Linked DNA regions of Homo sapiens: region 2 is linked to region 1. Evidence: fine-mapped expression QTL. Tissue or cell type: tibial artery. Region 1 holds a variant in brackets; the other region holds the start of a gene. All regions are shown on one strand. Distances are between the middles of the regions.

What was found. PIP is the estimated chance that this variant, and not a neighbour inherited with it, causes the effect.
Region 2: GPC6 starts here. The variant in region 1 is fine-mapped to the expression of GPC6 in tibial artery (GTEx, PIP above 0.99). The same link has a PIP of 0.9 or more in left ventricle.

Annotation. Positions count from the first base shown.
Region 1 is chr13:93,768,302-93,770,990 of GRCh38, forward strand. The region is part of intron 2 of GPC6 (glypican 6); the gene reads left to right. Among named protein-coding and RNA genes, the nearest start is that of GPC6-AS2, 89 kb to the right of the region's middle. The variant A/G (reference allele first, on the strand shown) is at 1,637.
Region 2 is chr13:93,225,629-93,228,317 of GRCh38, forward strand. It overlaps GPC6 (glypican 6), which reads left to right and starts at 1,179. Exons shown (of 9, transcript NM_005708.5): 1 at 1,179-1,988. The coding sequence starts at 1,829. RefSeq lists an enhancer at 1,772-2,614 and a silencer at 2,668-2,689.

The sequences.
Region 1 (2,689 bases):
TTTCCCTGAAAACCCTTCCTTGATTATTCAAGATTAAGTCCTTAGTGTCACAAGTTTACCCATTCCATAGCACGTACAGTTGTCATCATGATTTCTTATTCGATTACCAATCTTACCTCCCCAAGCCTGTAAACATAATTCAGTGACTGCATTTTTATTCACCACTGTATTCCAGGTCCTAAAACTAACCCTGACACATACCGGCCACTCGGTAAATATGGGTTGAATGAATGAATGAACAAATGGACAGAGAAATGAATGAGACACCTTCTCTGTCCTCATTTCAGTTTAAATTTAGGAACAAGGCATGAGTAAAAGTGTGAGGAGACAAAGCAGAGGAAGGCAAGTGCTGAAAGTTATGATCGCGTGCAGTGATGGCCATTAAGATGATCTTCGTACAGGAATTCATACAGGAATTTTTTTAAAGATAAATGCTGGCTTATGCAGGCTCTGAAGACTTATTTTTTATATCCATTCTTAATTAAACTAATGTTGAAAATAGTACACATTTATGGTAAAAAGCCTTCAGTCCTCTTTGGGGGTCATTTATTTGCTTGCTCTCTGGGAAGCTTCTTTCATAAAAGGATGCCCTTTTACTAGATCCCAACTGGGAGCTTTATGGGATTATTTTTTTCCTACTTAACAAAAGTGGGATTTAAACTCTAATTTCCAAAAACATAGTGGCTAGCTAAAATTGGTATTGATTTAATGTTCTGGGTCAATTTTAAGTGATAAATTAACATTAGCAAAAAAAGAAGTTTCTAAATTCTGTAAATCACATGGGATTTTTCATCGGCTCATTCCCTTACAATCTTTTTCTCAGGGATAAGGTTTTCTAAGTCAATATTTTCCCAAATGCATGCCCTTTTGTCTTCCATTAAATATGGTAGTCTTTGTTTCTTCAATGGCCATGTGAGAACAGAAGGAAAATTTCTTCTCAGAGAAGACAGAGCAAAGTAATATTCTTGCCAAAAGTTATCACAGTTTAATAGCAAGAAGGAATGTACACGTCTCTAAACAAAATGTGCAATGCTTTCTGATGCTGACACCATTTATTTAGTCTTATTAAATAGCTGGTAAAATGATCCAAGTTTCAGAGAAACACAAGCTGTGAGTGGCTGCTGCACGTGACAAAAAAAAAAAAAAAGACAGCCCCAAAAAGCAGCAGGGAGAAGATGTGCGCAGAGTCTGGGAGGATCACCTTTCTCCACAGCTTTCCCTTCCAAACCTCCAAACCCAGGCACTGCTTTCCTCTTGCACTCCTCTTCTCCTGATATCCATTCATTCACCTTATTTCTACACTCTTACCCCTTCCATATTTTTAATTAACTTTTCTCTTTGTGCTTGCACACTTGCTTTGCTTTGCTTTCAATCTATAGTTATTTTATGGGTGGCTTGGCACCTCAACCAGATGGGAATTAAGTGGAAGGCAGAAGTTGGCTTGCACACACAACCTCTAAATAAATGCAGGCCTGGGAAGGATGATTCATGCTTTACCTGTATTCTTTCAGCTGCAGTCAGTGTTTTTCCAATCTTGGTAGGCACCAGCATCACCTGGAAAATTGTTAAAGCAAAACATGCTTTGACTTGACTCCAGACATACTGGGGCTTAAATCTCTGTATTTATTTGCCAAGT[A/G]GTTCAAAATTTAGTAGTTGGGGGAATGGGATCACCAACCATTATGGTTTGCCAAGGAACGAAGGATTTCCTGAGCTGTGTGCTAAAGCCTGAATACTTCTGAGTAAATTGAGACATTTAGTTACCCTATTTAGGGTTGAAGATGAGGGCCAAAATAGTGCATGCATCTGTCTGCTTTCCATCTTTCCATCCTAATTATTCTAAAAAACCATACAACCCCCACTTTTATGGGTATAAAATAGTTATGTTACTTATCTATTTTTATTTTTGCATATTTTTTAGTTATTGCGTGGTTTATTACATATAATGAGAGCAACAATCTCATAACATTGGTTTTAGAATTAAATGAGATAAAATATGTAAAGCACTTAATGTAATGCCTGATACTAAGTGTTCAATGAATGTTACATATTATTTCTCTTTAGGTCCAAAGGTATTTATTTTCTTCTTGGCTTCCTGGAATACTAATCTTTGGTAAAGGAAGTTTCTCACTGGTCTCCTAAGCCGGCAGTGGTCTGAGGCATGCCACCATTTCTTTGAGCTGTGATGTGTTATATCATCTTCTTCCAAGACAGGCCCTCTTAGCTAGTGTGCTAACTGGACTTTCTCTCTCTGACTCAAAGGGGCTGTGCCTCAGAAGCTTTGTGGAGGTAGAAAGGCTTATCCACACTTCCCATGATAGGAGAGGGATTCTACCCACCTTCTTTCTGGATTCTTCTATGGACTGTAATGATTTCTTCCTCAGTAGTGTCTATTCCCAGACCCAGCAACTGCTTTTTGAAATTTGCTTGCAGACATCAACCCTGCAACTCTCTATCTAGTTCTCAGCACTTCAACTTAAGGCTAATATTAGACCAAGACCCACTTCCTCTAGAAATAAATCCTTTTCTCCCCCATACTTTCTTGGTCAAATAAGGTTACAGACTTATTTGGCACTTACTTAAGTAGTTTTTTTTTTCATCCTTAGGATGGTTCTCAATTTGTTGACTGATGAAATCATAAAACGTAACGTAACCCTCTAGGTAGCAGAGGATGTGCTTTGTAACATCATCC
Region 2 (2,689 bases), 540 kb before region 1:
TGAGAGTCTTTTTGGTGGTTAGGAGAGGGGGAATTTATTAAAGAGAGGAAGACAATGTACCTAATATGTTGTGATGATAATGACAAACTCAAAGATTTAAACTTCATGAGTCATTCTGGTCATTCATATCATCATCAGGAAAACATCTTCATGTGTAGCTTCATAGGTGAGCTCCACAAAACTGTGCATTACCTTGTAGTAGTTTGTGAATAATGTGCTGACCTATGACACATAGCCACGTAAGTGAATAAACACTATTATTATTATTATTTTGTCTTGGTTTTCATTAAACTATCTTAGTAGTTTCAGGAGCTCTGGGTTTCAACACACACTTCTGCCAGCTGACTTTAGTGCGTCCATTAGCATAACAAAGTCAATTAGGCAAACCTGAATTTTCACTTTTATCCCGTTCACAGAACATCAGTGTAAATGGAGACAGGAAGAAGAAATTGGATTGATTCTCCACTTGAGAATTATGTTAACTTGGAAGAAAATGTTAAGTCTACTATGTGAGGGCATCTAGTGAGAGGGAAGGAATCACCTCCCTTCCCCCATTATGTCCCTTTATGCACCTCTGACCCTTGTGCTCTCCTTTTCTTGTTGCTTCTGTGGTCTGGTTGTTAGCTTTCCCGATCCTCCACACATTAGAAACCTAAGCATAATGATTTCTGATCGAAGGCTATGAGATATTTGAAATAAAAAAAGGGGAAATTGTTGAGTCTAGAACCAAACCTTTAAAAATTAAGAACTACCAGTCTGTAATGTGTGCCTTTAGAAAAAAACAAAGTCAAACAGAAATTAGGCAACTAGTTAGAGCCGTGATTGTGCTCTGCCACCCATGAACTCCCGTCTATGACTATTTCCACTCTGGCTTTGTGTTTCAGTAGGTCAGGGACACATATTAAGAGCAACAATTGGAACTGCGTTATCCTTTACCTCCATAAAAATACAGCTTAATAACATGTTAATGACTTAAAATTACCTTGTCTTTCTAGATTGTTTATTGATGTCATTTCAGATCGGTATAAAGGATGTGAAGTGAATAAGAAAATAGGTACGTTTCTTTTTCTTTTTTTCCCCTTTCTACCGACTAGGAAGAGATCCAGTCCAGGTTTTGCCTTTGACTCGGCCTGTGAATTTCGGCTGTGCAATGTGTAGCACGTTTCTTTCTCCCCCCTCCTTTCTCCTTCCCTCTTGCCTCCAGTGACTGTCTCCAGGATTTCTCTCTTCCTATTTCAGGAGGACTCTCACAGGCTCCCACAGCCTGTGTTAAGCTGAGGTTTCCCCTAGATCTCGTATATCCCCAACACATACCTCCACGCACACACATCCCCAAGAACCTCGAGCTCACACCAACAGACACACGCGCGCATACACACTCGCTCTCGCTTGTCCATCTCCCTCCCGGGGGAGCCGGCGCGCGCTCCCACCTTTGCCGCACACTCCGGCGAGCCGAGCCCGCAGCGCTCCAGGATTCTGCGGCTCGGAACTCGGATTGCAGCTCTGAACCCCCATGGTGGTTTTTTAAACACTTCTTTTCCTTCTCTTCCTCGTTTTGATTGCACCGTTTCCATCTGGGGGCTAGAGGAGCAAGGCAGCAGCCTTCCCAGCCAGCCCTTGTTGGCTTGCCATCGTCCATCTGGCTTATAAAAGTTTGCTGAGCGCAGTCCAGAGGGCTGCGCTGCTCGTCCCCTCGGCTGGCAGAAGGGGGTGACGCTGGGCAGCGGCGAGGAGCGCGCCGCTGCCTCTGGCGGGCTTTCGGCTTGAGGGGCAAGGTGAAGAGCGCACCGGCCGTGGGGTTTACCGAGCTGGATTTGTATGTTGCACCATGCCTTCTTGGATCGGGGCTGTGATTCTTCCCCTCTTGGGGCTGCTGCTCTCCCTCCCCGCCGGGGCGGATGTGAAGGCTCGGAGCTGCGGAGAGGTCCGCCAGGCGTACGGTGCCAAGGGATTCAGCCTGGCGGACATCCCCTACCAGGAGATCGCAGGTAAGCGCGGGCGCGCTGCAGGGGCAGGCTGCAGCCCTCGGCTGCCGCACGTCCCACTGGCCGCCCGGCGTCCCCTTCCTTCCCCCTGTTGCTGAGTTGGTGCTCACTTTCTGCCACCGCTATGGGACTCCGCGTCTCCGTGTTGGGCGGCGGATGCTCCTGCGGCTTCTTCGGCGGGGGAAGGTGTGCGTCTCCGCCGCCTCATTGTGTGCACACGCGGGAGCACCCTGGCTCCCGCCTCCCGCTGCTCTCGCGCCCTTCTACCCCTTAGTTGATGGCTCAGGCCCGGCTGGCCAGGGAGCCCGGGTCACTCCGGGGCGGCTGCAAGGCGCAGACGGAGAGCCGAGCCGGGCGCTCACTCCGCGTTCTGGTTCGGGCAAACTTGGAAGAACTGCGACCGCAGTTTGCCCAGCGCCACAGTCTGAGTGGCGCCTTCTCCACTCCCGCCCTTGCGCCGGCAGGGGCGGTGGAGAGACGCGGAGGGCTCCCCCAGCCCCTCTCTCCCCTATCCGTCCTTCGGGCGACAGAGCGCCCGGCGCTCGGGCCGGGGGCGGGCAAGGCTGGGAGGGACCCTCGCCGGGGACCTGGCCTCTGGACGCCGGCGTTTCAAGGCTGGTTTGGGGACTTCACGGGCTGCCTGTTTCAGATGTGGGGCGGGCTTTCCCGTTAGGGTTCCTCAGTGCTTCCCCAGTTGCTGTTGG